7 linked regions of the Homo sapiens genome follow. The protein of the gene in region 1 purifies or fractionates together with the protein of each later gene. This does not show direct contact. Each region holds a gene or a part of one and is shown in the gene's direction. Other genes may lie near its edges. The genes, in order: CECR2, DBT, DNASE2B, PRRC2B, CUL7, ZNF318 and CYLD.

Region 1 (3,500 bases):
TAAAAAAAAAAAAAAATAGTCCTTTGTCACACTAATCTATTTAATGTAACATACTAGAGGATAAAATGCCTTCTAAAGATTCAGGATCTGCACCCTCACCAAGGAGGAAAGCCAAAGAACAGGATGTGAATTACAGAAGGACAGATCTGTGCAGGCTAAGATCCTGAAAGGGGAGAATGTGCTATCATAATGTAACTCTTTAAAAGTGAATACCAGGTCCCCTTTCTATTTATACCCACGCTTTGAAAGGAAAGGCTTGCTGCTTTGGTGTGTGTGTGTGTGCCCACCATGTGAAGCTTCAAAGGCTTCACAGTTGGGATCTTCTGCAGTTTAGAAGGGGCAGCGCCTTCTCATCTCTGAAGGGCGGCCTGCGTTAGCACATGGCTCGCTTTGCAACGGAAGTTAAGTTGCTTAATGTTCTGGAATACACTTAGGAAAGCCTAAAATACACCTTGGCAGCATTCAGTACTACCGATCATCTGCCCCTTTGATCAAGGGAGCTCAGTGTGGGATTCCATGGTGTGCTGGGGCTCGCACAATGCAGTGCGCTTGGCAGAGTGCGGAAAACTGCAGTGCAAAGGTGGTTTAGGTAAAAATGTGGTGTGTGGACAGAGCCAAAGGGGAGCTTCTAAGTACATGGTCTTAGATGTAGTTGATGTGACTAAACACATTTTCTTTTTTTTTGTTTTTTTTTTTTGAGATGGAGTCTTGCTTTGTCGCCCAGGCTGGAGTGCAGTGGCGTGATCTCAGCTCACTGCAACCTCTGCCTCCTGGGTTCAGGTGATTCTCCTGCCTCAGCCTCCCGAGTAGCTGGGATTTCAGACATGTGCCATCTGCCTGGCTAATTTTTGTATTTTTAGGAGAGATGGGGTTTCGCTGTGTTGGCCAGGCTGGTCTCAAACTCCTGACCTCGTGATCCACCCTCCTCGGCCTCCCAAAGTACTGGGATTAAAGGCATGAGCCACCGCTCCCAGCCCCTAAACACATTTTCAAAAGGCAGCAATCAGAAAGCTGGATTGTGGGCCCACCTGTCTTTAAGTTGTGTTCTTAGGCAGATGACTGTGGGTTTCAGGTGCCCCATCTATAGACTCAGTGATTCCTAGGTGTTCCTATGTCTAAAGTTCTGTGATTCTAGAAATGTTTCTCAGCATGCATAACACTCTTAACTAATCTAGAAAATTGCTGACTCACCAGTTAGGGTCAAGGTTAGGATCCACATCTTACAAATTAATTACGTACCAAGTGAAAACTGCAAATCCATACTTGGTGTGTTTGCAAATTATAGGAATTTTTTCTTTCTCTTTCTCTGGCATCTTGTCTGCAAATAAGCTACTTTGAAAGTAGCTTTTGAGACTTGAAGATTGACATGTTCACTATCTCTAGTGTTCTTAAAGTGACCTAAGATTTTGTGCTTTGAGATTTTGAGGAATTCTGGAGGCTGAAGGCATTGAATTATGTGATTCTTACTTCATTTTTTTTTTTTTTTAAAGACAGTATCTCACTATGTTACCCAGGCTGGATTTGAACCCCTGAGCTCAAGTGATCCTCCTGCCTCAGCCTCCCCAGTAGCTGGGACTCCAGGCACATGCCACTGCCTTTGGCTTCCTTTCACTTAGTCTGTTTCTTATATCTCATGTCATCAATAGCTAGAACTCTGAATAAGATCCACTTACAGCTTCTGGCTTGTGGTTTGCCTTTCATTTGCTATTATAACCTTTTCAGATGGCTGCTACCCTTCCTCCATATTTGCATATTTCATGGGATGCTATCCCTTGGATGCTTTTATTATATCTTTATATTAGCCTCTAACAAATATCAGTCAATTTATATTGGAAAACTTGGGGACAGTCATTTTTCAGCAGCTCTTAGGATTGAGAAAGGAATGAATGATTGGAAAGTAAGAGTGAGCTCCAGATTGTGTTCCTTTAATCCTCTGGGTTTCTCAGCCTCAGCACTATTGATAGTTTGATCTGAAAATCTGTTGTGGGAAGCTGTTATATGAGGAATGTTATATGCGTTTTGTTTTGTTTTGTTTTGTTTTTGAGACGGAGGCTTGCTCTGTTGCCCAGGCTGGAGTGCAGTGGCGCTATCTTGGCTCACTGCAACCTCCGCCCCCCGGGTTCACGCCATTCTCCTGCCTCAGCCTCCTGAGTAGCTGGGACTACAGGTGCCCACCACCACGCCCGGCTAATTTTTTGTGTTTTTAGTAGAGACGGGGTTTCACCGTGTTAGCCAGGATGGTCTGGATCTCCTAACCTTGTGATCCGCCCGCCTTGGCCTCCCAAAGTGCTGGGATTACAGGTGTGAGCCACCGCGCTGGGCTGTTTTTTTGTTTTTTTGTTTTTTTGTTTTTGGGAGACGGAGTTTTGCTCTGTTGTCCAGGCTGGAGTGCAGTGGCACGATCTCGGCTCACTGCAACCTCTGCCTCCCGGGTTCACACCATTCTCCTGCTTCAGCCTCCTGAGTAGCTGGGACTACAGGTGCCCACCACCACGCCTGGCTAATTTTTTGTATTTTTAGTAGAGACGGGGTTTCACCGTGTTAGCCAGGATGGTCGCAATCTCCTGACCCCCTCCTCGGCCTCCCAAAGTGTTGGGATTACAGGTGTGAGCCGGCCCACCTGGCCCTCGTTTTAAGATGTTTAGCAGTATTGTTGGCCTCTATGCTCCAGGTGCCAATAGCACCCCCAGTCATGACAAATATAAATGTCTCCAGACATTGCCAAATATGTCCGGCGGGGTGAAATTGTCCTGCTTTTGAGAATCATTACTTTAGTGTGTGAGGTAGAGATGACTTTTCAGTGTTGGTCATTGTATAGAAGGTACACCCTATGTGAGATAGATGAGTTTTTCCTTGTGATGGGCATTTTTTCCCCTAAATGCAAACCTTTAGTATTTTTGTTTATGGAAATTTAAGGAAGTTAAAGTTGCTCCCAGATGTGAATGTCATCAGCAATTGTACATGTCACAAACCTGGGAAACAGATGTTTTGTTAATTTTTTTCTTTCTTTGAGACAGAGTTTTGCTTTTGTGGCCCACCCAGGCTGGAGTGCAGTGGTGCGATCTCGGCTCACTGCAATGTCTGCTTCCCAGGTTCAAGCAATTCTCCTGCCTCAGCCTCTCAAGAAGCTGGTATTACAGGCGTGTGCCACCACACCCGGCTAATTTTTGTATTTTTAGTAGAGACAGGGTTTCACCATCTTGGTCAGGCTGGTTTCGAACTCCTGACCTCCAGTGATCAGCCCACCTCAGCCTCCCAAAGTGCTGGGATTACAGGCCTGAGCCCCCCGCGCCTGGCATTGTTAATTTTTTTCTCTTTCCTAGAACGTCATTTAAGGAAAGAAGAGAGTTTGGGGCTAGTAGGGAGGGAACTGTGAAGCTAACTGAGGCTGATAAAGAAAGGCCTTCCCCTACAAAAGGCCTCCCTGAAGCAGGGCCTGGCTGCCTAGTGCCGCAGGGAGGAGGGGTGAGGGGTGTTTGTGCTGCAGCCTGGGGCTGGAG
Region 2 (3,500 bases), on another chromosome or scaffold:
ATTTCCTTCATTATAGCACGTGTTATAATCACCGGTTTACTTGTCTTTACCTTTCACTGTACTGTGCATTCTATAAGGGAAGAAATTGCATCTGTTTTGTTCTCTGTATAATCCCAAGTGCCTGGCACATTGTAGGTGTGCATAAATATTTTTTAAATGACTCAGTAAAAAAAAAAGTCAGGTTTGTAAACTCTTCTAAAAAGTTGTAAGCAAAAACAGTTCTTACCCCCGTAGTAAATTATTAAAATAGCCTTATAATGTTGTGTTTTACATTTCCCTAGGACATAATGCATTTGACTCTTGATTAATCATGCCATTTGGAATTTTTCTGTTGTGTCTGTCTTCCTGTAGTAAAGTGTAAGCAATTTGAATTCAGGAACTATATATTGCATCTTATTTAGCTTTGCATTTCCAAGTCCAGTACAATGTCTGACTTTAGGAGTGCTCAACAGCTGCCTATTGAATTATTATTAAATATTTCCTTAATACGCTACTTTGGTGAACAGTTTCATTTCCCTTTATGTTCTTCTGTCCTGGTTGTGATATTGAATTATTAATTTTTTATTTTTATTTTTTTTGAGACGGCGTCTCACTCTGTCACCAGGCTGGAGTGCAGTGGTGCAATCTCAGCTCACTGCAACCTCCGCCTCCCGGGTTCAAGCGATTCTCCTGCCTCAGCCTCCCAAGTAACTGGGCAGGCACGCGCCACCATGCCCAGCTAATTTTTGTATTTTTAATAGAGACGGGGTTTCGCTGTGTTGGCCAGGATGGTCTTGATCTCTTGACCTCGTGATCCACCTGCCTCAGTCTCCCAAAGTGCTGGGATTACAGGCATGAGCCACTGCACCTGGCCTAATTTTTTATTTTATTTATTATTATTTTTGAGACAAGTTCTTGCTCTGTTGCCCAGGCTGGAGTGTGGTGGCATGATCTTGGCTCACTGCAGTCTTGACCTCCTGGGCTCAAGTGGTCCTCCTTCCTCAGCCTCCCAAGTAGCTGGGACTACAGGCATTCACCACCACAGCCAACTAATTATTTTGATTTTTAGTAGACAAAGTCTCAATGCATTGCCCAGTATGGTCTTGAACTCCTGGGCTCCAGTGATCCTTCTGCTTTGGACTCCCAAAATGTTGGGATTACAGGCATGAGTCACTGCACCTGGCTGAATTATTTTTAAAATCAAGGAAAGACCTATTTTAGTCAAATAATTGCATTAAGACTTAGACTACACGTATAGTTGTTCAACCAGGATGTATTTGAGAATGAAAATGGTGTTATTAATAATTGCCTTGAATCACTAGAGGTGAATTGGGTGTCACCTCAGGCAAATTGGTACAGATGGTCCCCATAGAACTAGGTGTCTTTAGTATTGTTCATAGATGAATTTAGAATTGCTTCAAATATAAAATATATAAAACTGATAATTCCATAAGCATGCCTTTTTAAAATTGGAGGTTTAAAGCCTTATGCTTAATTTACTAGTCTAGCTGGGTGTGGTGGCTCACACCTGTAATCCTAGCATTCTGGGAGACTGAGACAGGAGGATTGCTTCAGCCCAGGAGTTTAAGACCATCCTGGGCAAAAAAGTGAGACCCTGTCTTTATTTTATTATTATTATTATTATTTGAGATGGGATTACAGGTGTGAGCCACTGCACCCAGCCAACCCTGTCTTTGAAGAAAATTAAAAAATATAATTTACTAGTCTAATAGTCTGTTTCTAGAAAAAAAATTTAGAATTCTAGCTTGAAAAATTATTTCTTCTCCTCTTTCCTGTTGCCTGTTAATCCATCTATTCAGCAACTTCACAGTGTTTTTAGCCTTCTCCTCAGAGCCATTCAATTACTATTATATTAATCATATACTGCCTATGGTACTTTTGTTGCTTTTTTTCTTTTTCTACTATTAATTACCTCAGTCAGGAGCCTGTTGCTTTGTGTCTCAAATACTATACAGTACTCTCCCCTTCTTATCTGTGGTCTCAGTTAGCCATGATCTACTGTAGTCTGAAAATAGGTGAGCACAGTACAGTAAGATATTTTGAGAGAGAGACCACATTCACAAAACCTTTATTACAGTATATTATTATAATTTTTCTATTTTATTATCAGTTATTATTATTACTGTCTTACTGTGTCTGATTTATAAATTAAACTTTATCATAGGTATGTATATATAGGAAAAACACGGTATATGTAGAATATGTAGGATTCAGTACTGTCCATGGTTTTAGGCACCCACCGGGGGATCTTGAACGTGTCCACTGCACATAAGGAGATAAGAGAGGAATACGGTAATAGTTATTTTTTTAAAAAAATCCTTTTTTGATAATTTTGGTATGTAATAGTTTCTTGACTTCTCCCTTTCTCTCCAGATTTTATCTGTTATAATCTATTCAATAAACCACTACTAATTTCCTAATCCTTTTTCTTCAATAACCCATAATGTATGAGTTCAAACTCCTTATACTGACATTATAGTCATCAACCATTTCCTCCTTGAGCTGTTTCCATTGCTCTCTTTTATACCTTTGGTCAAGCCAAATCAAGCCGCTCAATGTCCCAGCAGATATGCTAAGTCAATTTCTGCTGTAGTTTATTTATGCTGTTTCCTCTGCCTTAAAAGTGCCCTTCTGCTCTTTTATTATGTATGCTTATTATGCACAGTGCAGCTTAAATCTTCCTCCAAGAAGCCTTCCCAGGTCACACTAACGTGAAAAAAAAGCCCACCAGACCCCTCTACTTAAACTCCTTTTTTTTTTTTTTTTTTTTTGAGATAGAATTTTGCTCTTGTTGCCTAGGCTGGAGTGCAATGAGATTACAGCTATGAACCACTGTGCCCGGCCTGCTTAAACTCCTTTATCACGTACTGCCTATGTCTCTTTTTTTTTTTTTTCGTAAACCTATGGACTATATTAAAGAAGCCTATGCCTCTTATTACAAAAAGTTAGAGCATGCATGTCCATGCTTGAGTGTGTTTGTATGTGTGTTTATTTTCTCACATACGTTGTAAACTCTTTGAAATTAGGGATTATTTCTCCTATTTCTAGGGTCTTTGACATCAAATTTATTTAGCTTCAGAGCTCGATTGTTCCACTTATTTGCTGTGTGACCTTGGACAAATTACTTCACCTTTCCCATCAGTTTCCCGTGTGTTGAAGAGGGCTAACGTGTATGTTCCACAGGGAAATTGTAAATGTAAAGATGATGTCTGGGCCGGGCACCATGGCTCATGGCCTGTAATCCTAGTACTTTGAGAGGCCAAGGTGGGCGGATTGCCTGAGCTGAGGAGGTCGAGAGCACCCTGGGCAACATAATGAAACCCCGTCTCTACTAAAATACACACAAAAAAAGTTTAGCTGGACATGATGGCACATGCCTGTAGTCCCAGCTACTTGGGAGGCTGAGGCACGAGAATCGCATGAACCTGGGAGGCGGAGGTTGCAGTAAGCTGAGATCGTGCCACTGCACTCCAGCCTGGGTGACAGAGTGAAACTCCATC
Region 3 (3,500 bases), on another chromosome or scaffold:
TGTGAATTACAGCAGAAAGTATGGACACACCAAAGGTATGACAAAGATTCTTGGTTTCTCTTTCCTACTGGAAATCAACAATTTCTTAAATATTTCATCTTGAGTATCCTTATATTCCATACTAAATAGATAGCCTTTCTTCTTAATAGTTTATTTGAGTTATTGAAATGTATGACTTCTATATCACTGGTTATAATATAATTATATGATTTGACTTGGCAATCTCATTTTTAGAAATCCCATTTTATTTCTTAACATATTTTAAAATATTTGCTTTGCAGCAGCAGGAATCCAGGTACTGATACTGAGGACACACACACACACCAGCAATTTTATATATATATATATATATATGCACATGAATATGTATATATGTATATGTGCATGTAGTATATATGTACAAACACATTTTAGTCAGATTTATTGAAGTATGATTTATAGAGAGTAAAACGAGCTCTTCTTAACATACAGTTCCCTTGGAAATATACATTTTTGAAAAAGTATTTTAAATAGCTTTTTATATTAATTTTTATCATGTTATTTACATTATCACATATAATTTTTATTATCCTTTCACAATTTTTTTATTTCTAAACTTTGCATATGTGTTTGTGAACTACAGAAAAATTCAAAATACAGGTAAACAAAAAAATCTATAATCCTAATGCCCATTAGATAAACCATATTTAATCCTTTCTACTTTTTCTAAAATACATATTTTAAAACATTTTTACAAAACTACTGTAATGACTATTTTTCAACCTTTTTTCAATTTCATATATCATAAATAACTTTCCATGGCAACAAGTATTCAGAAGATTCCAAATTCAAATGCCTTCAAGGGAGCAGGCAAATGATGTCAGCAAGTGAAAGGAGGCAGTTACTATTCAACTTGCCTGATACGGACACAATTTTCCAGGAGATGTTGAAAATTAATATTTGTGGAAAAACTCCCCAGTTTTTAAATGTTGGCACTAAATTCAAAGTTTAAAAAATACTCTGCAAGCGCAATAAAATGTATCCACAGGCTGGATTTGGCTCAGAGGATGTCAGTTTGCAGCCTCTGATTTAGAATATAGTTTGTAATGGCTGACAAAGGTCATGAACTTTGAAAGCTTTTTATTTAGCAAAGTTGCTCTCCTGAATACCCTATTTACTGGGAACCCAACAATTTTCATAACATGCTACATTCTTCAACCTCTCCTCCAACAATCTCCCACACTATTCCTGCTCTACCCTGCTAACTGCCACAAGGCTTTGGGGAAATGGCTCTAAAGAAGTAGGGCACAATATCAAGTGGAGGGGTTCTCTTGGCCAACAGATGCCCTAATATCCTATGGCATTTGTACCAGGAGGATAGGATTCCAGCAAATTGGCACACTCATCTGCACAGAGGATAACTCTTGAAGGTTATCCAGTTCTGTTACACACAGAACTTTCAATATTTTCCACCTTGACACAGGTATTGATTCTATTTCCACCCAAAGAACAACAGTATGCTTTCTTAAAATAGGCACTTTGAAAAAAAAATAACTAGAAGGCATTTGGTTTTTAATCTAACACTTAGGCAAACACGAGTGAATCTTATGTTTGCATAGTCATATGCAAACTGGAAAGTCTAGCTATCATACCAAACCTACCATGATAAATTTCTAAACACAAAAATAGTCAGATGTCTGTTTTACAAAGTTCTTTTTGGTATGTCACAAAATGATAAAAATCTTTCTATTTTCTTCCTTATTGGCTTTCAAGTTGTTTATTTTGCTCTAGAGATTTTTACAAACGTAATTAACTAGGATGCTTTAGCACAGCTTCCTTTTTGTCTCTTTGCTTCTTTTATTGGGCTTGTAGAAATAGTGACTCTTCTGCCAATAAATGGGCAGCAGTTTTTTATAACAAATTATTGTGAGTACATTTCTTCATTTGATATTTTCTCTTTCAACTCTGTTTTTTAGTCAGCTTTTGAAAAGAGCCTAGCTGCTTAGCAGTGAAGACACTATCTAAATCTTGCTAGGTGACTGTATAGTTTAACAAGGTCCAATTCCAATTTAGCAAATTTGCATTCTGCCAAAACAAATTTTCCTTGTGATTTCAAAATGAAATTCCTCTTAACTCTTCACAGGATGGCTACCTTGGTTCCCTTTTCGTGGTGGCTTTTTATCAGTAATCAGGCAATGTGATATGTGCCAGAATTGTATTTGAAATCTTTGAAAAATAAGCATGATCCTTGTGATTATTAGCCTAATAAAACACTAGTCTGAAGCATAAATGGGCTTAAATGTTGCCACTGTGAACCCTATTATAAAAGAAGCTTTGTTTTTCTGATTTATCTTTGTTAAATGTGTCTTTGGTAGGTTTACTGCTGTGGAACAGAGTTCAAGGGTTCTGGCTGATTCATTCCATCCCTCAGTTTCCTCCAATTCCGGAAGAAGGCTATGATTATCCACCCACAGGGAGACGAAATGGACAAAGTGGCATCTGCATAACTTTCAAGTACAACCAGTATGAGGCAATAGGTAAAACTAAAGTATGTGAGAAAAAAAACGATAACTATGTTGAAGAAATGATTTGGAAATATATTCATAAATGTGTCACTTCATTTGTTAATCTATTCATAGACCCTCTGATACCTAGATTCTAATACTGGCTTTGCCATGGTGAGGTCTTGGGCAGGCTCGCTTACTGGGCTTTGGCTCTTAATCTACCAGTGCAGTTGTTGAACTTGATCAGGGCAGTAGTTTCAAATGTATTCAGGGGCCTGGTAGATAACATATATGAGTGAAACAGACATGTTACATGGGAAGTGAGGATAGTGATGAACTGGGGTGTTGACTCACCTAGCTTCCCTTAAAGCCTCAGTTCCATCATACTGTGGCTCTACAGGAATACAAGCCTAATGATTACAGATCTCCTTATTTCTCATGAAGTACCAGAAACCTAGGGTGTGTGTGTGTGTGTGTGTGTGTGTGTGTGTGTGTGTGTGTGTGTGTGTGTGTGTGTCAGAGAGAGAGAGAGAGAGAGAGAAACTGATTTCCAAATATGAGTTCAATCTTAATTTTGTTTTTGAAGTTTTCCAGGCCACATGTTCCTTGTAGGCCACAAACATGACACCTCTGAGCCAGATAATCTCCTTTTAAGATTTCAAGCTCAGCGAAAAATTCTTAGATTTGGCAAACTGTGGTGGGAAAGGAGAAGTAGGGACAGGTTGGTAGCTAAATAGTAGTGAAAAGCAACTTGCCTATAGAAACAGGAGATTTAGAAAATGTTTCTCATCAAATTTCCATCTTATGGCAAGGATCACTGAGCTCCTCACCCAAGTCAAGCTCTAGTCTCACTAGTTGAAATCATGTAATGATGCCGAATATCACAGAGATTAGGCATGCACACTGAGGAGATGATGATTCTTAAAGCTTTTTGGTACATGGAGTTCTCAACTTTTGTATATGTATATGTACATTTAGAAGAAAAAATATATGGTCTCCAAGGCCAAATTACCTGGG
Region 4 (3,500 bases), on another chromosome or scaffold:
GGGATGACAGGTGTGAGCCACCGTGCCTGGACACCCAGGCTGTTTCAGACTCCTGGACTCAAGTGATCCCTCCGCCTCCGCCTATCAAAGTGCTGGGATTACAGGCATGAGCCACGGCACCCAGCAAGGCAGCCTCTTTCATGAGCCACTAGGTTCTGGGGGGTCTCAGTCCTGGTTAAGCCCTTTGATGAGTGGGGCTTGAGGTCTTACTCCATTTACTGGTTTGAACCTGGAGAAGCCTTTTGTCTTAAACAGTTTTTGTTTCTAGGGACATGGATGCCCCATTGACTCCTGGGGAGATCCTGGTCTGGTGGGGAGGAGGCCCTGGAGAGCCCCCCACCTAACTTTGGCCTCATCCTCTTGTGGTTTCTTTCTTTCTTTTTTTTTTTTTTTGAGACGGAGTTTTGCTCTTGTTGCCTAGGCTGGAGAGCAATGGCGCGATCTTGGCTCACTGCAACCTCTACCTCTCGGGTTCAAGCGATTCTCCTGCCTCAGCCTCCTGTGATTTCTTCGGAGCCCCCTACAGTTTCTCTTTATAGCAGTTTTCACAACTTGTAAATAGGTGTTTTTTTCTTTATTTGAATTTTAAAAATTGTGGTGAAGTATACATAACATAAAATTTACCATTTTTAAGTGTACAGTTGAGTGGCGTGAAGCACTTTCACAGTGTTGTGCAACCATCACCACCATCCATCTCCAGAACGTTCTCATCTTCCCAAACTGAAACTCTGTTCCCATTAGATGCCAACTCCCCTCCCCCATCCAGTGGCGGCGGCCACCATTCTTACCATTCTTTCTCCTTTTTTTTTTTTTTTTGAGATAGGGTCTCACTGTCGCCCAGGCTGGAGTGCAGTGGCACGATCTTGGCTCACTGCAACCTCAGCCTCTTGTGTAGCTGGGATTACAGGCACACGCCACCACACCCAGCTAATTTTTGTATTTTTTTGTAGAGACGGGGTTTCACCATGTTGGCTAGTCTGGTGTCGAACTCCTGGCCTTAAGTGGTTTGCTTACCTCAGCCTCCCAAAGTGCTGGGATTACCGGCATGAGCCACCGTGCCTGGCCTAGTTTTTGTATATTTTATTTTATTTTATTGAGACAGAGTTTTGATGTTGCCCAGGCTGGAGTGCAATGGCGCGATCTCGGCTCACTGCAGCCTCTGCTTCCTGGGTTTAAGAGATTCTCCTGCCTCAGCCTCCCGAGTAGCTGGGATTACAAGCGCCTGCCACCATGCCCAGCTAATTTTTGTATTTTTAGTGGAGACGGGGTTTCACCATGTTGGCCAGGCTGGTCTCGAACCCCTGACTTCAGGTGATCTGCCCACCTCGACTTCCCAAAGTGCTGGGATTACAGGCGTGAGCCACTGTGCTTGGTCTAATTTTTGTATTATTGTTATTATTTTTGAGACAGAGTCTCGTTATGTCTCCCAGGCTGGAGTGCAATGGCACGATCTCGGCTCACTGCACCTCTACCTCCCGGGTTCAAGCGATTCTCCTGCCTCAGCCTCCTGAATAGCTGGGATTACAGGTCTGGCTAATTTTTGTATTTTTAGGAGAAACGGAGTTTCGCCATGTTGGCCAGGCTGGTCTCGAACTCCTGAGCTCAAGCGATTTGCCTGCCTCGGCTTCCCAGAGTGCTGGAATTACAGCCATGTGTAATCCCATGGTGGCAATGTTGAGCCACCTTGCCCTGCCAACCATTTTACTTTCTTTCTGTGAAACCGAATACTCTTAAGTACCTCATGTAAGTGAGATCATCCAGTATTTGTCATTTTGTGTCTGGCTTATTTTTAGCATAGTATTTCCAAGGTTCATCCATGTTGCAGCATGTGTCAGAACTAACTTCATTCTTAAGGCAGAATAATATTCTCTTATTTGCATGTATCTACCACATTTTATTTATTCATTCAGCGACGGGCAGCAGCCTGTAGATAGTTTTGTTTTCATGTATTGAATGGTCCTTTCCCCCAGTGGAGTGAGTAAATGCATCCGGAAGCAGAATTCTGTTGTTTCCCATTCATCACTGTGTGCCAGGTGTCTGAGAAGGGGGTCTTATAGGAGCCCACGCAGAAACCAAGCTCACCTCAGTCTGGGTGTGGGGCAGTCAGGGAAGGCATTCTGGAAAATGTAGCTGACTCGAAATAAGCACCTATTGAAAATAGTGTGCTGAGCCCTGGAACATTAAAAATGTGTTCCTATGTGGAAATCAGAAATGTATGGGTCCCAGAAGAGAACTTGTGGGTCAGCCTGCTTTCCAGAGAGTGCCGAGGCCCTTTGAATGGTGAACATTATGCAAGCATTCTTGTATGGCCAGTGGCCAGCAGGGAGGAGGGCAGAGAATGACTGTGCCTCCGGGAAGCCGGCGTCAACTTCCCGACACGCTTCAGGATCATCTCTTTGTATAGAACCATGGGATGGATCGCTGCAGGACCTACTGGAAAAAGGAGGTCATCTCCAGGACTCTTTCCATGGGTCCTTTGTGTCTTGCAGAACTTTTTTCGGCAGGTGTTGTTTACATATGGTTCAGAGCTTAAAGAACAGCTGTGTTCCAGGCCAGGGCAGAAAGCACAGGCCTGTCTGGGAGGGGCATCATCACTCCTGCCTGCCTGCCCAACCGACCTGTCGGTGGACTGAATGGGCCAAGTGTTCAGAAGTCCTTGGGAAGAGGATAGTGTCCTGAATCATAATGTGGTATTTTCTGGTTTTTTGTTTGTTTGTTTGTTTTTGGTAAAATGTTAATTGCAGAAGTATACAGGTTATTTTATTTATTTATTTATTTTTTTTTGAGGTGGAGTCTTGCTCTGTTGCCCAGGCCGGAGTGCAGTGGCATGATCTCGGCTCACTGCAACCTCCACCTCCCAGGTTCAAGCAATTCCCCTGCCTCAGCCTCTTGAGTAGCTGGGAGTACAGGTGCATCCCGCCACGCCTGGCTAATTTTTTTTTGTATTTTAGTAGAGATGGGGTTTCGCCTTGTTGCCCAGGCTGGTCGCAAACTCCTGAGCTCAGGCCATCTGTCCACCTCAGCCTCCCAAAATGCTAGAATTACAGGCGTGAGCCACTGCGCCTGGCCCATACTTTAAAAAAAAAAAAAAAAACAAAATTAAAAGCCAAGTGTTTGAAGAGAAATGAAAGCTTTTCCCCAATGTCCCAGGCAGTAACCATTATTGATAAATTTGCTTTGTTTATCCTTCTAGGCTCAGTGCACGTATAAATATGGCCTCATGTAGGGAGGTTTTTTAAAAAACAAAAATGGGATATACTATATTGTATTGCAACTTGGCATTTTCAAAATATCACAGTATTTTTCCATACGTATTTTTAAGCGTAACTTCTCTTATTTTTATTTTCAGTAATACTTTTTTTTTCTTCCTTAGGGATGTGGGGGTGGGTCTCGCTATGTTGACCAAGCTTGTCTTGAACTCCTGGCCTCAAGCTGTCTTCCCATCTTGGCCTCTGAAAGTGCTAGGATTACAGGTGTAAGCCACCACACCCAGCCATTTT
Region 5 (3,500 bases), on another chromosome or scaffold:
TTGGAATGGTGAAAAGAGTCAGTAGTTGAGAGGGGGGCCATTCTGAGAGCTGGGAAAATCTGGGTTTAGGAGGCTGTGAAGTCAAGAAGACTCACACCTGGGAAGAAACTGATATAGCCAGACTCCTCCAAAGGTCAGGGTCAGGGAGATGGAGTGGTGGAGGCCAGAAGGAAGTGTGGGGGCATAAGCCATGAAAGACAGGGTGAGAGGAGAGACAGGCCCATCCCCCAAAGGAGAAGGCATCCTGTGTGTGTGTGTGTGTGTGTGTGTGTGTGTGTGTGTGTGTGTGTGTGTGTGTGTGTATTCTCCATATGCTGCTGTTTTGTTATGTGGAGGTTTTTCTAAAACCTGGCCAGGTGGTCACCCTGAGGGCTATAGTCCTCAGTACTGGGCCACAGCCAGTCATTTGTGAGTCCTCCCTTCCCCTTCCCTCTTTCTTTCCCTATGCTCCAGGTATTTTGGGAGTCAACAGGCCGCACCTATTGGGTGCACTGGCACATGCTGGAGATCTTGGGCTTTGAGGAAGACATTGAGGACATGGTTGAGGCTGATGAGTACCAAGGGGCAGTGGCCAGTAGAGTCCTGGGTAGAGGTGAGCTCAGGGAGGAAGCAAGGGTCAGCTCTGAGCAGAGGAATGGTGGTCCTGCTGAGTTGCTAGTGACATCCTTGTGCCCCTTGGCCCATTTTCACAGCCCTGCCTGCCTGGCGCTGGAGGCCCATGACAGAACTCTATGCTGTGCCTTATGTGCTGCCTGAGGATGAGGACACTGAGGAGTGTGAACACCTGACCCTGGCTGAGTGGTGGGAACTCCTCTTCTTCATCAAGAAGCTGGATGGACCTGACCATCAGGAGGTTCTCCAGATCCTCCAGGAGAACCTAGATGGGGAGGTAGAGCCAGCCTGGAGACACTCAGAGGTTGGAGGGCTCTATTGCAAGGGCTGGACTGTATAGAGCATTTGGAAGGCTCAGGATGAAAAGTGGAGGTCAGAGAGTGGAAGGGGCTGCAGAGGAGGGGTCTGGAATTTTCAGAGGTGGGAGGGTGAGCTGTTTGGGAGGAGCCAGCTGCCAGCTGTGAGAGGATCAGGATGGAGGGTATGTGTGCAGAGAGACCCCCACCCCTACCAAGTGCTCCCTGGGGCCTCTGGGTCGGCAGGGCTGTCTGCAGTGAGAGCTTCTCCTTGATGGCAGATTCTGGATGATGAGATCCTAGCTGAACTGGCCGTGCCCATAGAATTGGCCCAGGACTTGCTGCTGACTCTGCCACAGCGACTCAATGACAGTGCCCTCAGGGACCTGATCAACTGCCATGTCTACAAGAAGTATGGGCCTGAAGCCCTAGCAGGGAACCAAGCCTACCCATCCCTTCTAGAAGCCCAAGAAGATGTCCTCCTGCTAGACGCGCAGGCCCAGGCTAAGGACTCAGAAGATGCAGCCAAAGTGGAAGGTGGGTGCCAGACACAGCAGCTGAGCTGACACACCTTCAGGGCAGTAGCACAGGAGAGATGTCTGTGCTGATTTTTATGCAATCCTTTCTGGAAGTGATGCCACCTTAGAAGCTGCAACTTAGAGAGAAGCAACAAACGGAGAAGCAGGCATTGTGTTCCCTCAAAGAATGAAGGAGGATGTAAAGTTAGAAAATTGCAAGAGAATTTTGAAGACTTAAAAAAGCCCCCACATTTAGCTTTTTCTCTTGTACAGAAACATATTCCATGCTTTGAAATAAAGGGAAGTGCTCTCCTGTTTTCAGATGAAGCTACTTTGCTATTTTAAGAATATAAAGGCCGGGCATGGTGGCTCACGCCTGTAATCCCAGCACTTTGGAAGGCCAAGGCAGGTGGATCATGAGGTCAGGAGATCGAGATCATCCTGCCTAACATGGTGAAACCCCGTCTCTACTAAAACTACAAAAAAAAAAAAATTAGCCGGGCGTGGTGGTGGGCACCTGTAGTCCCAGCTACTGGAGGCTGAGGCAGGAGAATGGCGTGAACCCAGGAGGCGGAGGTTGCAGTGAGCCGAGATCATGCCACTGCACTCCAGCCTGGGTGACAGAGCGAGACTCCGTCTCAAAGAAAAAAAAAAAAAAAGAATATAAAATTTGTCATGAAGCTGTCTTACAATGACATTCAGAGATTAGATCCCCAAACCTAACTTTTAGGGGGATTAAAAAATTTAAAACATTTTTTAGGAGAAATTAGAGAAAAAGATTGAGAGTTATGAATCTATTTCTGAGCCTTCACATTACTAACAATGGCCAACTCCTGTGACTGTCCCCTTCCTGTAGCAAAAGAACCCCCATCTCAGAGTCCCAACACTCCCCTGCAGCGTCTGGTGGAGGGTTATGGTCCAGCTGGGAAAATCCTCCTGGATCTAGAGCAAGCCCTCAGCTCAGAGGGGACCCAGGAGAACAAGGTCAAGCCACTCCTGCTGCAGCTGCAGCGGCAGCCGCAGCCCTTCCTGGCACTGATGCAGAGCCTGGACACTCCGGAGACTAACAGGACCCTGCACCTGACTGTGCTGAGGTGAGAGCATGGTGACAGGTGGGATCTCTGAGGGCAAAGGGGGTCCATGAGGCTGGCTACACATTTCTCTGCCCCCAGAATCCTGAAGCAGCTGGTGGACTTCCCCGAGGCACTGCTGCTCCCCTGGCACGAGGCCGTGGATGCCTGCATGGCCTGCCTGCGGTCCCCAAACACTGATCGAGAGGTACCCCTGCCCTGCTCTGGGGAGAGGCTGGGGGAGAGGATAAAGGCAGCCACTGGCAAGGCACACCTGCTGGGCAAGGCTCTGGAGGGCGTGATAGAGCCTTTGAGCTCTTGGTTTGAGTTTTGCTTTTAAAATTGAATTTTATTTTTTTTAAATAGGTAATACATTCACATGGTTCACAAATCAAAACGCTCTAACAAGGTATACACTGAGAATTCTTGCTCTCACCCAAATCTCTGTTCCCCCAGGGTCCCCCACACACCCCTTACTGGTAACTACTTGTATTAATTTATGTATCTTTCCCGTGTTCCCTTATGCAAATATAAGCAAACCCAAATGTGTGATCTTGCCACTCTCTTTTTTACACAAAAGGATATGGAGATATTATTACATAAAACATTAAGAGCTTCAATAGCTCCATTTTTGGCTGGGCCTGTGGGAGAAAGGGGGATGAAGGAGGCAGAGCGCCCATCACATACCAGAGTCCCCTGCAAGAGCTACAGAGAAGTCCTGGGCACAGAAGGCTTCAGAAGGGCTCAGAGAACTAGGGTCATGGTGACAGTAGGTATTTGCAGTGTGGCTATATTTTTGGCTGTTACCTAGAATTTACTTTCTAAGGCAGGCTCATTGGGTATAATACACACACAAACCCAGTCCCTGTCAGCCCCTTCCCAGCCATCCAGGTGTCTGTGCCTGAACATCTCAAAACACAGCCCTACAACTGGTTTTTGGGACAGTAGGGCCTGGATGAAAGAACCCAGGGATGCTCTCTGCCGTTTTTGCCAACATAATCAGC
Region 6 (3,500 bases), on another chromosome or scaffold:
GTAGGCCTAGTCTTTTATACCTGGGTCTTCAGTCTAGGTAGGGCCTTTGATGGGAGAAGAATTTAAAAGCTCTGGTCCTTTGTAATTGACTTATACATTGGATTTCTATTCATGTACGAACCCAATGATAATCTGTCATCTTGATTTGGGTGCGTCTTCATGGTCTCTGAAACTAACGGATATGTTACAATTCAGTTTTCATCTCAGCAGTAAGGAATATTATGTCCACAGCCTTTCTTTCCTACCTGTCCTTGGTATTTCTTCTTTCTTTACCTCTCTTTAAAATGTATAGTTGGTTTGAGATTTTCTTTCCCTTTCTGTTCATTTCAGAAAAGCACATACAAACTTGTAATTTCATCTACCTAGAGACAACTGTTATTATTACTTTTTTTTTTTTTTTTTGAGACAGGGTCTCACTCTGTCACCTAAGTTGAGTGCAGTGACACAGTCATGGCTCACTGCAGCCTCCAACTCTCAGGTCCAAGCATTCCTCCCACTTCAGGCTCCCCAGTAGCTGGGACTACAGGTGCTCACCACCACCACACTTGGCTAATTTTTGTATTTTTGTAGAGTTGAGGTTTCGCCATGTTTCCAAGGCTGGTCCCGAACTCCTAAGCTCAAGTAATCTGCCCACCTCAGCCTCCCAAAGTGCTGGCATTACAGGCATGAGCCACTGGGCCCAGCCGAGACCACTGTTATTAATACCTTGGTGTATAATATTATTAATACCTTGGTGTATGTTATTCCAAATACATACACCAAGGTATTATTATATATTCCAAATACATTAATTTATTATTAATACCTTGGTGTATGTTATTCCAAATACATACACCAAAGTATTAATTCTGTCCATCAATTCACTTAACAAATATGTATTGGTCACCAATAAAGTGTCAGGAACTGGTCTAGATATGGGAAGTATCACACTGAACAGTATAGACAAGGTTCATATTCTCATTAAATAGCAGAAGATGATAAATAAATAAGTCCATGTTAGGTAATGAGAAGTGCCTAAAAAAAGAAAACAGGATAAGGAGTATAGAGTGGTTAGAGAAAGTATTTTGGATAAAGTGATATTCAACGCTGTATGCCGATTTACATATCTTTGTTGATTATTCAAGTGTATTTTATTAGTTTTCTCAGTATATCATGAACATCTTTCCATGTCAGTAAATACACTTCTATAATACCATTTTTAACAACCTTATTTTTTGTTGTTTTGGTTGCATGGTTAAGCAAAATTTATTTAACCAATCAAATCACCTGTTGTTTGACATGATAATTTCCATAGGATAAATGTCAAGGAGTGAATTGCTGGGTTAAAGGGTATACAGTATTTTGAGGTATGTAATGTATTCCTAGATTATCTTCTAGAAGATGGTGCCAGTTAATACTCCCACCAGGAGTGTATGAACTCTCCCATCCCCTGCCTGTCTGGTGTGATTTCTTTAGTGATTCTTGAATAGGACTCAGGTAGGGAAAGAGTATCTTTGAAGCCCCAATTGTTTCCCTTTCTGTATCCTACCTTTTTCCCTGCGTGAGCCAATATTCCAGGTACCCAGCTCTTCATCTTGTGTACTATAGAACCCCATTCATAGTGAGCCTCTGAGTTGCAAAAATTATCTTTTTTTCCTGTGCCTTACTCCTGAACATTAACCAAAATTCTCATTTCCTGAGTGCCTTGTTCCAGCTTGGTAATAAATTAATTCATATTAAAGTATTTGCTGTTGATAACTTTAATATTAAGAAGTTGATATATTTTTAAAAAGGATACATGTTAACGGTGTTAAAATTTTTTTTTTTTTTTTTTTTTTTTTGAGACAGGGTCTCACTTGTTGCTGAGGCTGGAGTGCAGTGGCACAATCTTATCTTACTGCAACCTCCGCCTCCTGGGTTCAAGTGATTCTCGTGCCTCAACCTCCCGAGTAGCTGGGAATACAGGTGCACACCACCATGCCCGGGTAATTTTTGTATTTTTAGTAGAGATGGGGTTTCACCATGTTGGCCAGGCCTGTCTCGAACTCCTGGCCTCAAGTGATCTGCCCACCTCGACCTCCCAAAGTGATGGGATTACAGGTGTGAGCCACTGCACCTGGCCTCTAAAGTTGTTAAATTCTAAAAGTGATATTTTAGGCAGTTAGGAATGTTTTTCCTAGATTCCTTTAAATCATTCTACATAGATGACTTTATCTATGTGTAGTTGTATAGTCTACTTTATCTATGTACACCAACCCTTCTCTCCAGTTTTTCATACCAGGATGCATGTGATGAGTTCACTATCACCTATTTTCTGCATTTGCTTTGCTTAGCCTGTCAATTACCTTTTCCATATTGGTTTTTCTTCCCTCCCTAGCTGTCATGATTTTCAAATTTAACTGTTTAGTTGCATAGGTAACATATTCAACATTTACTAAAGGGTATACAGTGAAGAGACTCCTACCCATCCTTGTTCTCCACTTCCCTTCCCCAGAGGCAGCCAATGTTTCCACAACCTTGGCTGTTCTTCTAGAGATATTTTAGGATATGTAAGTAAATATATTGCCATTATGATTTACTTTTTATGCTGTGATAGCACTATGAAGTCAAATAGTTCTATGTCTTAGAGACATGTTTCTGTTAGGGTTCCCCCCAACTTGTGCAGCTTTAAACATTGGAAATATGGTCATATGGCCCTATTTCTATTATTATGGCCACTTACTATTTCTAACAGAAGACAAGTCTAGATTGCCTTGAATTCCTTGTAAGTACAGATTTTTCCCCTCTAGGAATCAAAAGTAAACAATGAGAAGTTTCGTACTAAGAGCCCCAAGCCTGCCGAAAGCCCCCAGTCAGCCACTAAGCAGTTGGATCAGCCCACTGCTGCTTATGAGTATTATGATGCTGGCAATCACTGGTGCAAAGACTGCAACACCATCTGTGGGACCATGTTTGATTTCTTCACTCATATGCACAATAAGAAGCACACACAGGTTGGTATCCTACTCTCTGTTATTTTCACTCCCACCCTCACTCTCTTCAAACTTCTATACCCCTATCTGCATTGCAAAGCTGGAAAAGGAAACATTCTCATATGGGCAGGAGCCCCAGTCTGAAGAGCCAAGAGACACCAACAAAGGAGACACCATCCCCAGGGCTCAGTCCAGGGGACTTGGCTGTAACTAAACACCATGACAAGTGTAAGTGAGGTTTCTGCCTCTTTTGATTCCTTGAGTACCTGATTTTTTTGTTTCATTTTACCTTTTTCTGGTACTTGCTCTAACATGTGTTTACCTTTTCCACAGGTGATTTCCATTAAAACAGTTGGCAGAGGGGGTGGGGGTGGGTAGCTGGGGGCTTCTGGTCCCCTGGTCTTATTATGGGGGAAAAAAAAGAGAAAAGTGGGTCATTGAGCTTTTAGTGCTGTTGTGTGAGCACCTCTGCCTCTTACAAATAGACACTGGATCCCTACAACAGACCTTGGGCTTCAAAGACCCAGAGTGAGGCCAAGCAAGATGCCA
Region 7 (3,500 bases), on another chromosome or scaffold:
AAAAAGAAATAATAGAAAGAAATTATAATGCAGTTATATCATGATATTCCCTTGCTATGTAGTACAAGTTTTGATGCTACAAAATTGATTTTTAAAATATTTTTAATATAGTCATATTATAATATCTGATATTTGCGATTTGAGAAATCAGATAACTATGATTAATGTGATGAACATTGCCCATCTTCAGAAAAAATATATGAAATGAAGTTGAGTCAGAGGTAAAATGTTCCATTATCACAATATGGCCATATCATAGCTATCATTTATAGGCATGAGCCACACAGCTCAGCCCGAAACGCTACTTTTAAAAGTTTATTAGTGTCAGAATATGGGACAGGCCTGGTGGCTTACGACTGTAATCCCAGTGCGTTGGGAGGCCAAGACAGGAGGATTGTTTGAGCCCAGGAGTTCAAGACCAGCTTAGGCAACATAGTGAGACCCTGTCTCTACAAAAAATAGAAAGCTTAGCTGTGTGTGGTGATATGCGTCTATAATACCAGTTACTCGGGAGGCTGAGGTAGGAGGATCACTTGAGCCTGGAAGGTCTTGGCCACAGTGAACTGTGATTGTGCCACTGCAGTCCAGCATGGGCAACAAGAGTGAGACCCTGTCTCAAAACAAATAAATAAAAATAAATTAAAAAAAGTTAGAATATGTATATAAGGGTAATCTTTAAAAGTTTTTACTAGAATCTGATTTTATAAATTTCAGTGTCTTGGAAGCAAACATTGTGTTGTCTTTGAAAGTACTTTACAATTGGATTTCATTAATTAAATATGCACAGTTACAGTAGATAAAAGTAATACAGTATGTATGTCTTTTAGCCCTTTTAGATATTTTTTGAAAATATTTCATTTGTGTGTATGTGTTTACTGGTCAAATGAAAATTTTAAAAGTCTTCAGTCTTAATTTTCAGTCATGTAGAATGAAGTCTAAAGTTTATTTTTGCTTTTTCACTAGGCATTTTGATTTCCTTTCTTTTTACAGCATGGACACCACGTTGCTGAAAACATGCTTTGGGACTGCCACTGAATTTATCTTTTGCGGTTTTATGACAAAGTTATTAGTAGTTTCCCTTTTTTGAATTAGTATTTTGAAGTTAATATCACAATGAGTTCAGGCTTATGGAGCCAAGAAAAAGTCACTTCACCCTACTGGGAAGAGCGGATTTTTTACTTGCTTCTTCAAGAATGCAGCGTTACAGACAAACAAACACAAAAGCTCCTTAAAGTACCGAAGGGAAGTATAGGACAGTATATTCAAGATCGTTCTGTGGGGCATTCAAGGATTCCTTCTGCAAAAGGCAAGAAAAATCAGATTGGATTAAAAATTCTAGAGCAACCTCATGCAGTTCTCTTTGTTGATGAAAAGGATGTTGTAGAGATAAATGAAAAGTTCACAGAGTTACTTTTGGCAATTACCAATTGTGAGGAGAGGTTCAGCCTGTTTAAAAACAGAAACAGACTAAGTAAAGGCCTCCAAATAGACGTGGGCTGTCCTGTGAAAGTACAGCTGAGATCTGGGGAAGAAAAATTTCCTGGAGTTGTACGCTTCAGAGGACCCCTGTTAGCAGAGAGGACAGTCTCCGGAATATTCTTTGGAGTTGAATTGCTGGTAAGTTTGATAAACCATTTTAGTAGTGTGTTTGTTTGTGTTCATGTGTGTCTGTGTATTTGTATGCACATACATATTTTTCTCCTTAAATACGAAATAAATTTTCCCAAGAGTCTTCTGTAATTTTTAATATTCATCATCCTTGCTGATGAATCCATGTTGTGGTTGAATCCATAATCCAAAACTTGCTTATAGTTGTCACTGATAATATGTGTGAAAATCACCTTGGCGTTTATTTCTGTTGGAAAGAGACCCAAGAACTCTGTGATATGTTTCCAAGCTTAATATTCATTCTTGAGAACTTAAATGTCAATTATATTTTGACATTCTTGCAAATAGAATTGTATGCCTTCTTTGCTTCTTGATTTAATTTCTTTTGTTTACTTTTTAATGATGAATTGCGAAGATGTAAAGATGATGTCGAAACTTAAAAAACTATGTACTATGGTAGGAACATACAAAGAGATTCACCTGGCTATTGCAGACATATATATTTTAGAAATTTTAACATTGCCTGTATTAAACATGAACGCTACCAGTTGTAAATAGTTACATAAAAAATTGTTAATTACCTTGCGTTATCATCTATAGGTTTCTTAGTTCTTCTTAATGTATGTTATTAAATAACAATTTAGATATAAGATTTTTGAAAAAAAAGTTGCAGAAATTTAAACTTGCTTATAATTGTCCCCGATAATATATGTGAAAATCCTTAGAATTTATTTCTACCGGAAGGAGACCCAAGAATGCTGTGATATGTTTCCAAACTTAATATTCATTCACAAGAACTGAAATGCCAATTACATTTTGACACTCTTGCCAATAGAATTGCATGTCTTCTTTGCTTCTTGATTTAATTTTTTTTAAAAGCAGTGATTGTAAACAATTAGGAATTTGAATCCCAGTTAAGCCATTTACTAGCTGGGTTGCCAGGTTACTTAACAAAGCTACTTAACTTCTCTCATTCTGCATCCTTACCTGTACAATGGTGTTAATAGTACATGACTTGTAGTGTTTTTGTGGTACATTGATGCAGGATTTAAGCACAGTGACTGACAATAAGTGCTTAATGAATGGAGCTAACATTACTGCTATTTTAAAGTAACATTTTCTTTTTATAACCAAATTAATGTTAGAATCACAACGTGGAATTCAGCCTAGCTTTCTCATGATAGAGTTATGAATTGAAATTATCAGATAATATTATTTCAGCATCAGATACAACTTCTTATTTTTTAAAACACTCTAAATCCAACAGAAACTGCTAATAATTGTATTTCTTATTATATGTATCATTTAGAAATTTTCCAGAGTGATTTTCCTGAAATCCCTAGAGTGAACCCCTTTTCCTATGGATCGTCTTTCTATATCTATTTCTTTCCCTTCTCTCTTAAAAACTAGGAAGAAGGTCGTGGTCAAGGTTTCACTGACGGGGTGTACCAAGGGAAACAGCTTTTTCAGTGTGATGAAGATTGTGGCGTGTTTGTTGCATTGGACAAGCTAGAACTCATAGAAGATGATGACACTGCATTGGAAAGTGATTACGCAGGTCCTGGGGACACAATGCAGGTCGAACTTCCTCCTTTGGAAATAAACTCCAGAGTTTCTTTGAAGGTTGGAGAAACAATAGAATCTGGAACAGTTATATTCTGTGATGTTTTGCCAGGAAAAGAAAGCTTAGGATATTTTGTTGGTGTGGACATGGTAAGAAAATTTTGGATTAAATATCTTTGTGATATATATATTAGTTTATATATATATGTATATATATATATAAACATATATATACACACATATATATACACACATATATATGTATAGTTTATATATATATGTATTAGTTTTAGGACCAATTTACTTGCAAATTGAACACTTTGAATATT

Evidence for each region.
Region 2: the proteins of CECR2 (region 1) and DBT purify together in Homo sapiens (affinity purification with mass spectrometry, with the first as the bait; one large-scale study listed by BioGRID). This does not show direct contact.
Region 3: the proteins of CECR2 (region 1) and DNASE2B purify together in Homo sapiens (affinity purification with mass spectrometry, with the first as the bait; one large-scale study listed by BioGRID). This does not show direct contact.
Region 4: the proteins of CECR2 (region 1) and PRRC2B purify together in Homo sapiens (affinity purification with mass spectrometry, with the first as the bait; one large-scale study listed by BioGRID). This does not show direct contact.
Region 5: the proteins of CECR2 (region 1) and CUL7 purify together in Homo sapiens (affinity purification with mass spectrometry, with the first as the bait; one large-scale study listed by BioGRID). This does not show direct contact.
Region 6: the proteins of CECR2 (region 1) and ZNF318 purify together in Homo sapiens (affinity purification with mass spectrometry, with the first as the bait; one large-scale study listed by BioGRID). This does not show direct contact.
Region 7: the proteins of CECR2 (region 1) and CYLD purify together in Homo sapiens (affinity purification with mass spectrometry, with the first as the bait; one large-scale study listed by BioGRID). This does not show direct contact.

The regions. Positions count from the first base shown.
Region 1 is NC_000022.11:17,375,960-17,379,459, forward strand, and holds part of CECR2 (chromatin remodeling regulator CECR2), read left to right. Parts: intron 1-3,500. UniProt on the Homo sapiens protein: Regulatory subunit of the ATP-dependent CERF-1 and CERF-5 ISWI chromatin remodeling complexes, which form ordered nucleosome arrays on chromatin and facilitate access to DNA during DNA-templated processes such as DNA replication, transcription, and repair.
Region 2 is NC_000001.11:100,243,335-100,246,834, reverse strand, and holds part of DBT (lipoamide acyltransferase component of branched-chain alpha-keto acid dehydrogenase complex, mitochondrial isoform 1 precursor), read left to right. Parts: intron 1-2,232; exon of another isoform or gene 2,233-2,292; intron 2,293-3,500. UniProt on the Homo sapiens protein: The branched-chain alpha-keto dehydrogenase complex catalyzes the overall conversion of alpha-keto acids to acyl-CoA and CO(2).
Region 3 is NC_000001.11:84,408,484-84,411,983, forward strand, and holds part of DNASE2B (deoxyribonuclease-2-beta isoform 1 precursor), read left to right. Parts: coding exon 1-35; intron 36-2,354; coding exon 2,355-2,516; exon of another isoform or gene 2,517-2,527; intron 2,528-3,500. UniProt on the Homo sapiens protein: Hydrolyzes DNA under acidic conditions. Does not require divalent cations for activity. Participates in the degradation of nuclear DNA during lens cell differentiation.
Region 4 is NC_000009.12:131,400,586-131,404,085, forward strand, and holds part of PRRC2B (protein PRRC2B), read left to right. Parts: intron 1-3,500.
Region 5 is NC_000006.12:43,047,352-43,050,851, reverse strand, and holds part of CUL7 (cullin-7), read left to right. Parts: intron 1-453; coding exon 454-592; intron 593-692; coding exon 693-889; coding exon of another isoform or gene 890-916; intron 917-1,189; coding exon 1,190-1,445; intron 1,446-2,282; coding exon 2,283-2,520; intron 2,521-2,598; coding exon 2,599-2,704; intron 2,705-2,862; exon of another isoform or gene 2,863-2,875; coding exon of another isoform or gene 2,876-2,905; intron 2,906-3,500. UniProt on the Homo sapiens protein: Core component of the 3M and Cul7-RING(FBXW8) complexes, which mediate the ubiquitination and subsequent proteasomal degradation of target proteins. Core component of the 3M complex, a complex required to regulate microtubule dynamics and genome integrity.
Region 6 is NC_000006.12:43,342,148-43,345,647, reverse strand, and holds part of ZNF318 (zinc finger protein 318), read left to right. Parts: intron 1-2,768; coding exon 2,769-2,972; intron 2,973-3,436; coding exon 3,437-3,500.
Region 7 is NC_000016.10:50,748,586-50,752,085, forward strand, and holds part of CYLD (ubiquitin carboxyl-terminal hydrolase CYLD), read left to right. Parts: intron 1-963; exon of another isoform or gene 964-990; 5' UTR 991-1,113; coding exon 1,114-1,617; intron 1,618-3,018; coding exon 3,019-3,321; intron 3,322-3,500. UniProt on the Homo sapiens protein: Deubiquitinase that specifically cleaves 'Lys-63'- and linear 'Met-1'-linked polyubiquitin chains and is involved in NF-kappa-B activation and TNF-alpha-induced necroptosis.